Linked DNA regions of Homo sapiens: region 1 is linked to region 2. Evidence: fine-mapped expression QTL. A gene starts in region 2. The other region holds a variant in brackets. All regions are shown on one strand. Distances are from middle to middle. Region 1 overlaps LIPA (lipase A, lysosomal acid type). Region 2 holds the start of LIPA (lipase A, lysosomal acid type).

What was found. PIP is the estimated chance that this variant, and not a neighbour inherited with it, causes the effect.
Region 1: its variant is fine-mapped to the expression of LIPA in whole blood (TOPMed, PIP above 0.99). The same link has a PIP of 0.9 or more in platelets.

The regions. Positions count from the first base shown.
Region 1 is chr10:89,225,460-89,229,860 of GRCh38, reverse strand. It overlaps LIPA (lipase A, lysosomal acid type), which reads left to right. Exons shown (of 10, transcript NM_000235.4): 4 at 1,463-1,661; 5 at 2,857-2,966. Among named protein-coding and RNA genes, the nearest start is that of CH25H, 20 kb to the right of the region's middle. The variant GTT/T (reference allele first, on the strand shown) is at 2,760.
Region 2 is chr10:89,250,022-89,254,422 of GRCh38, reverse strand. LIPA (lipase A, lysosomal acid type) reads left to right here and starts at 2,648. Exons shown (of 10, transcript NM_000235.4): 1 at 2,648-2,686. RefSeq lists an enhancer at 2,562-2,621.

The DNA of each region.
Region 1 (4,401 bases), 25 kb after region 2:
TGTTATGAACATCCCTCACAGAGTGGAATTGTAATTGTTACAGCTGATGAACCTACATTCACACAAAGTCCGTAGTTTACATTAGGGTTCCCTTTTTTTTTTTTTTTTGAGACTGAGTCTCCCTCTGTCCCCTAGGCTGGAGTGCAGCAGTGCAATCTTGGCTCACTGCAACCTCTGCCTCCCGGGTTCAAGCAATTCTCCTGCCTCAGCTTCCTGAATAGCTGGGATTACAGGTGTGGGGCACCACACCCAGCTACCTTTTTTGTATTTTTAGTAGAGACAGGGTTTCGCCATGTTGGCCAGGCTAGTCTCGAACTACTGACCTCAAGTGATCCACTCGCCTCAGCCTCCCAAAGTGCTGGGATTGCAGGCATGAACCACCACACCCGGCCACTACAGTTCACTCTTGATGTTGTATATTCTATAGTTTTGGACAAATGTATGATGGCATGTGTCTACCTCTATAGTATCATGCAGAGTAGTCTTACTGCCCTGAAAAATCCTCTTTACTCTGTCTATGAATTCCTTCCTCCCTCCTAACCCCTGGCAACCAGGATCTTTTTTACTCTCTCTATAGTTTTGTCTTTTCCAGCATGTCATATAGAATGCAGCCTTTACAGATCTTGGTAATATGTATTTAAGGTTCCTCTACATCTTTTTGTGGCTTGATAGCTCATTTCCTTTTAGGGCTGAGTAATACTCCATTGTCTGGATGTAGCACAGTTTAGTTATGCATTCATTTACTGGAGCACATCTTGGTTGCTTCTAAATTTTGGCAATTATGAGTAAAACTACTATAGACATCTGTATGCAGGTTTTTGTGTAGATGTAAGTTTTCAACTCCTTTGGGTAAAATACCAAGGAATGTGATTGCTGGATTATATGGTAAGAGTATGTTTAGTTTTGTAAGAAACTGCCAAACTTTTCCAGTGTGGTGCTACCAGTTTGCATTTCCACCAGCAATGAATGAGAGTTCCTGTTCCTCCACATCCTCTTCAGCAGTTGGTGTTTTCAGCGTTTTTGGATGTTGCTCATTCTGATACGTGTATAGTGATGTCTCATTATGTGTGATCTTTTTCTTTCCTTTTGTTTATTTTGTTAGGAATTATTGTGAGAAATGCAATTACGAAAGCAAATTGTAAAAACATTTTATAAGAAAAAAATTGTAAAAACATTTTATAATTTCTTAAAAATATATTGATTTTTGTTTTTGCTGCTTACATAAGTGTGTCTTGTTAGTGGACATGCAAAAAATGGTCCAGTTTCACTGCTACCTTGCCAGTGCTGTTTTAAAAAAATTCTTTACTAACATTATATGTGAGTACATCACTATGTCAATCTTTCAATTTATTTCTAGTTCATTATTTGCTTATGGATCTTTTACGAATGTTCTATTTAGCAAGATATCATATTTGTTTTGAAGCTTGGTGCTACTGCCTCCTAAACAATGAATGTTTTTCAGGTCCCAAACCAGTTGTCTTCCTGCAACATGGCTTGCTGGCAGATTCTAGTAACTGGGTCACAAACCTTGCCAACAGCAGCCTGGGCTTCATTCTTGCTGATGCTGGTTTTGACGTGTGGATGGGCAACAGCAGAGGAAATACCTGGTCTCGGAAACATAAGACACTCTCAGTTTCTCAGGATGAATTCTGGGCTTTCAGGTATATATGAATTGATAATGGCATGGATGTATTTCCTTAGTACTCTTAAAGCAGACAACAGGCTTCCAGCAGAAGAGGTAGATAGGTGGTAACTCTGAAGTTGTATGAGAGGGGAAGTTAGTGTCTTTTGAAAGGTTTTAAATGTTGCTAGGAATTTAATGACTAGCAGTAAGGTAAATTATAAGTAAATGATTACATTAAGATTTACATTTAGTTAGGAATTCTTAAGTTACTTCGGCATTTCTGGTGGTGTGGGTGCTGCTGGGTAAACGTTATTCCATAACTTTCCTCCTTTCTCCATAAATATGTAATCCAGATGTTCACTTTTCTTCTTTCCAGAAATTATCCTTTCCTCCCTCTTCCTTCTGGCTCCACCAGTTAATTGCTGTATGACATTGGACATCTTACATAAGCCTCCTGTGTCTCGGTTTCCTTATTTGTAAAATGGAGCGTAATAAACACCTACCTCATAAGGTCACTGGGGGCTTAAAGGAGAGGGTGCAGAGAAGGAACCTCCACAGAACCTGGCACCTTGTATGAACTGGCTAGGGGTTGGCTCTTCTCCTGCCAGTGGCAACATGCGCATGCATATACCCATACGCACACTTGGGTTTTGGTCTATGTTTTGGTACCAGGTATTAGAGAAAGTCAGCAGCACTATAGCAGCCTCCGGGCTTGCTTCCCATTTTTAAAACCAGAGGCACCTCTAAGGACATGAAACACAAGAATGAGAGCTTTTAACAAAAGGCATATACAAGAATTGGTTTATTGTCACGCTATTTGTAACAACGGAAAACAGGAAACTACCCAAATGCATGTCAGCAGTGAATGGATAAAGTGTTGTATATTTATATAGTAGAATAAGAATGAACAACTTACAATTATATGCAGCAAAAAATGGATTAAGCCAGATACAGGAGAATACACATTGTATAATTCTACTTACAGAAATATTTAAAAACAGGCGAAACTAATTTCTGGTGTGAAAAATGAGGACAATAGTTACTTTTGGGAGACACAACTGGAAGAGAGCCCAAGGGGGCTTCTGCAGTCCTGCTGGTGTTGTTTCCTGGACTCACTGCTGGTTTTCCCAGCTGT[GTT/T]TAGTTTGTGATAACTCATCAAACTGCATACTCAGTATGTGTGTGCTCTATTTTATGTACTATTTCAATGAAAGAGTTCCTTTCTTGGATTACAGTTATGATGAGATGGCAAAATATGACCTACCAGCTTCCATTAACTTCATTCTGAATAAAACTGGCCAAGAACAAGTGTATTATGTGGGTCATTCTCAAGGCACCACTATAGGTATGTATGTAAATAAGATCAGAAGTTGATATAAATTCTTCATTACAGAGTTTGTACTTTTCTTAAAAGTGAAATATAAAAAGATGTTAGTTCAAATTCCATTTATTTTTAAATGCCAAACAGAAATAATGAATAAGATAAGGAATGTTGGTAACATTTAGTCTTCTATGAAAATTCATGTATATGGTTGAAATTGAAGAAATTAATGTAAGCCACAATATATTACATGTTTTCCTAGATGAAGCAAGATAGGGATGTGAGAGAGTAGAAAACAAGTAGTTTCTAAGTTCAGAGACTTACATAAAGAAAACAAGAAAATATACTGCCTTCTGAAGTTAAGTGGAATATAACTAACTACAGGTACATTTGGTTTACAAAAAATTTTGAAAAGTTATATGCATTTTAATTTATGCTGATTATATAAGTAATGCATGTTCACTGTAGAAAAACAGAAGAACAGAAGATTTAGCAAAATTAAAGAAAATAAAAATTGCCCATAATTCTAGTCAGCAAGAGTTTTTGTAATTAGGGACTAGGAACCTGTCCTATAATTTATTTAATTCTCCCTTTTAATGTTTACTATGACTAACACCTTAGTGTTCCCATCACATGCTTTCCTTACAATATATTCCTAGAAGGAGCCTTACTATATGAAAGGTATGAATGTTTTGAAGGGTCTCAAAACATGTGGTTATATTGCCAGGAAAAAAATGGAGTTAGGCATTTTTCTTTATTTATATTTCTTCTTTCATGACTTGCCTGCTTGGGACCTTTGCCCCACTGCTTCCTAAAGTGACATTCTGGGGCCAGGTGGCAAGACGTCAGAGAGGGTTGTATTAATTCGTTTTCATGCCACTACTAAAGACATACCCGAGACTGGGCAATTTATAAAGAAAAAGAGGTTTAATGGACTCACAGTTTAATGGATTGTGAGCTAGGGAGGCCTTACAATAATGACGGAAGAGCAAGGAACATCTTACATGGTGGCAGACAAGAGAGAGTGAGAGCCAAGTGAGGGAGTTTCCCCTTATAAAACCATCAAATCTCAAGAGACTTACTCACTACCACAAGAACAGTATGGGGGGAACCGCCTCCGTGATTCAATTATCTCCCACCAGGTCCCTCCCACAACACATGGGAATTATGGGAACTACAATTAAAGATGAGATTTGGGTGGGAACACACCCAAACCATATCAAGGGTTAAAATATATTTTAAAGCTAGGGGATTCTAAATGTGTGAGTTCCTTTGAAATCATTGGTGGTTTATTTCAACGTGGTGTCTGTAAATTGTTCTTTGGGGGAGGGGCATGGGGGAGATAAAGGTGATGGGGTGAGGCTCTTGGAAATAGTCTGTTATTTACATTGTAAAAGGAACTGGGAAGATTTTCTGATTCTCCCAGACTGGATTTCTTCCAGTGCTTATCTAGGTTGAG
Region 2 (4,401 bases):
CTAGCCATGGCAAAAAGGGGTTAAAGTACAGCTCAGGCCATGGCTTCACAGGGTACAGTCCCTAAGCCTTGGCAGTTTCCATGTGGTGTTGAGCCTGTGGGTGCACAGAAGTCAAGAATTGAGGTTTGGGAACCTCCACCTGTATTTCAGAGGATGTGTGGAAAAGCCTGAATGTCCAGGCAGAAGTTTGCTGCAGGGGTGGGGCCCTCAAGGAGAGCCTGGGCTAGGTCAGTGCAGAAGGGAAATGTGGGATTGGAGGCCTCACACAGAGTCCCCAATGGGGCACTGCCTAGTGCAGCTGTGAGAAGAGAGCCACTGTCCTCCAGACCCCAGAATGGTAGATCCACCGATAGCTTGCACTGTGCACCTGGGAAAGCTACAGACACTCAACACCAGCCTGTGAAAGGAGCCAGGAGGAAGGGTCCCCCTGCAAAGCCACAGGGGCAGAGCTGCCCAAGACCATGGGAACCCACCTCCTGCATCAGTGTGACCTGGATGTGAGACATGGAGTCAAAGGAGATCATTTTGGAGCTTTAAGAAATGACTGCCTTGATGGATCTGGACTTGCATGCGGCTTTTAGCTCCTTCATTTTGGCCAGTTTCTCCCATTTGAAACAGGTGTATTTATCCAATGCCTGTACCCCCATTGTATCTAAGAAGCAACTAACTTGCTTTTGATTTTACCAGCTAATAGGTGGAAGGGACTTGCCTTGTCTCAGGTGAGACTTTGGACTATGGACTTTTGAGTTAATGCTGAAATGAGTTAAGACTTTGGGGGACTACTGGGAAGGCATGATTGGTTTTGAAATGTGAGGACATGAGATTTGGGAGTGGCCAAGGGCAGAATGATATGGTTTGGCTGTGTCCCCACCCAAATCTCATCTTGAATTATAGCTCCTGTAATTCCCACATGTTGTGGGAGGGACCCGGTGGGAGATAACTGAATCATGGGGGCAGTCTAGCCCATACTGTTCTTGTGGTGGTAAATAAGTCTCACAAGGTCTGATGGTTTTATAAGAGGAAAATCCTTTTACTTGGTTCTTTCTCTCACATGTGCCGCCATGTAAGACAAGCCTTTTGCCTTCTGCCATGATTGTGAGGCCTCCCCAGTCCTGTGAAACTGTGAGTCAGTTAAACCTTTTTCCTTCATAAATTACCCAGTCTTGGGTATGTCTTTATTAGCAGCATGAGAACAGACTAATACACCTTCTAATTAGTCTCCCTGCTTCTGTAGTTCAGAATGATCTTTCTAAACTAGATTATGCTGCCCTTCTATTGAAAATATTACACTGGCTTCTCATCTTACTCAGAAGACACGGTAAGATCTTGACAAGTGGCTCCCAAGGCACCAGACTTCTAGGACTTCATGTTCTATTACTTTCTACTATGTACATTCTGTTTTAGCCTCAAAGACCTCACCACTCTGGCTAGGACCCACCAGGAATATTCCTACCACAGGGCCTTTGTACCTGCTATTTTCACCCAGAATGTGCTTTCTCCAGTATCTAAGGCTGTTAACTACCTCCTTGCCTGTGCTCAGGTGTCACTTCATAAGAGTCCTTTCCTGATTACCATATACATATCATCCTCCTTATCCCTGTTTTTTTTTTTTTTTGGGGGATGGAGTCTCACTCTGTTGTCCATGCTGGAGTGCAGTGGCATGATCTCCGCTCACTGCAACCTCCACCTACCTGGTTCAAGCCATTTTCCTGCCTCAGCCTCCCAAGGAGCTGGGATTAGAGGCACACACCACCACACCCGCTAATTTTGTATTTTTAGTAGAGATGGGGTTTCACCAAGTTGGCCAGGCTGGTCCTGAACTCCTGTCCTCAGGTGATCCGCCCTCCTCAGCTTCCCAAACTGCTGGGATTACAGGCGTGAGCCACTGTGCCCAGCCCCTTGTTGTTTGTTGTTGTTGTTGTTTGTTTGTTTTTGTTGTTATTTATAGCACTTATCACCACCTCATGTATTATATAGTTATTCATGATGTGTCTCTTCCCATCAGAATATATACAAGAGAACAGGAACCTTGTTTGGTTGGTTTCTATACCTCCACTGTCTTACTAATGCCTGGCATTTAGTAGGTGCTCAATAAAATCTTTGTTTTAGAAAATGATTAATAAATAATATGTACATATTGAATATTGTTTCCTCTTTTAACAAATCTTTAATAATAATAAAAAATTTAAAGCAGCAAGATTGCTTTGCATCAGGCACAATGATAAGCGCTTTAAATGGAGCCCATGATTCACTTTCATTTATAGAGCCCACATGCTCTCTGTCAGGCGCAGAAGGTGCCAGCCCTGCAGGAGCTTCGGGGGCGGAGCAGAAGGCCGCCTAAAACAGCCTTTGCTAAGAGAGCATGCGTAGGCGACGCGCTGGTAGAGCTGTGGACCTGCCAGCCTGCGAGGCGGAGGACGGGCTCCATCTCTTAGAAACGCCTACGGCGCATGCTCTATGGGGTCAACTGGGGGGCTGGCAAGCGGCAGCGCTGGTCTGGGGCGGAGTCTCCGAGGCACTTCCCGGTGGCTGGCTGCTCTGATTGGCTGAACAAATAGTCCGAGGGTGGTGGGCATCCGCCCTCCCGACAAGGCAGACCAGGCCCCCTGCAGGTCCCCTATCCGCACCCCGGCCCCTGAGAGCTGGCACTGCGACTCGAGACAGCGGCCCGGCAGGACAGCTCCAGGTGAGAGTGCCGGCGCCGCGGCGCTGCCAGGTGCGGGTGCGGCGTGGAAGCTGGTGCCTTCAGCAAGGGGAGGGTCGCGCCCCGAGGCTCTGCCGGCCGGCAAGACCCTCTGCGTTTGGACCCAGCGAGTCTTGCCTGGGGTGCCTGCGGGTGCTTTTTCTGCGGGCGTTGGCTCAAGGCATCTGCCAATCAACCAGGGCAACTTCAGAGAGCAACTTCAGAGAGAAGCCCACTCTCTTCCCTGGGCGCTGTCCACTTTCCTGGACAGGCGCGGTCTCCGGTCAGTGAAGCTGCCCAGTGCTCCTGGACCGCGAGGACAGCAGGGATGTCTGATTCCTCTCTCTGCATCCTCGTGCTCTCCCCTTAGCTCCTCCAGGCATCCCATCCTACCTCTCTTGTTAGCCAACGGCGTGGTCGAAAGCAGACTTGGGCATCAATCCTGGTTAAAGTCCCAGCGATACTGCTTTTTAAACAGCTGACACTTTGCTTCCAGTACTTCAGCTGGGTGAACCTCAGATTCCTGAAAAATGGAATTAATGGTACTGCCATAGGGTCGGTGGAGGAGTAATTGACAGTAGATCAGAAGCGCTGCCTGCGGTGGCTGGCGCCTCGCAAGAGCTTAAATGGGAGTCGTAATAATTGTTGTTATTAGAAAGTTAAATAGCATGCTGCGTTGGGGCCTTTTCTTCTGCCACTGAACTGTTGGACTGCTCTTATCTTTTTTCAGAATCTGTACTATGCATCTAATATATACGTGGCACTTTGCTTGGTCCTGGGGGTACAAAGCTGAGTCAGATTGTTACAAAGTCTAAATAACTGAGATAAAGGTGTTAATACAGCCCAGAAAAGCACACTTAATTCAGCCTGGAAGGTTTTTTTTCCCCCCTCCTTCGAGATTTTCAGAGTATCTCCTTCTTAGTAAGAATTGCTTGGCTTAGTATGTTGAGAAAAACATACTAAGTATGTAGTGTTGTGTTGGAAGGAAAACTTAACTGGGTGAGATTTTCAGCTGAGTAGCTTTAGCTGTTACTCTCATGGACCTTCCTCTGGGCGGTTGATACAGGTTCTGTAGGAAAACCGCTGAATGAAAGCAGCTCCTGCAGATGCTATTCTGTTTTCAATTGTGGTAATTCCTTTAATTTTTTCCCTTTCAATTTACTCCTTATTCTCTAGTAATAATGGACTTTTGGGAGGTTGCATTTATGATAAAAAATAGCCTGGGGCTGTACAATCCTTCCTATCATGAAGAAGTACAAAGTTGTAAGTAGAAGCAGTGGCCTTGCTTTGCCAATGCACACTGAAGGGGATAACGTTTGCTCCTGTTCAGAGTTCACGGTCGGGCGCGGTGGCTCACGCCTGTAATCCTAGCACTTTTGGAGGCCGAGGCCGGCGGATCACGAGGTCAGGAGATCGAGACCATCCTGGCTAACACGGTGAAACCCTGTTTCTACTAAAAATACAAAAACAAAATTAGCCAGGCGTGGTGGTGGGCGCCTGTAGTCCCAGCTACTTGGGAGGCTGAGGCGGGAGAATGGCCTGAACCCAGGAGGTGGAGCTTGCAGTGAGCCAAGATCTCGCCACTGTACTCCAGCCTGGGGGACAGAGCAAGACTGTCTCAAAAAAAAAAAAGAAAGAAAAGAAAAGAAAAAGAAAAAGAAAAAAGAAAAAAGAAAAGAATTTCAGAGTTCACTACTTCTTGGAAAAAAATAATCCCA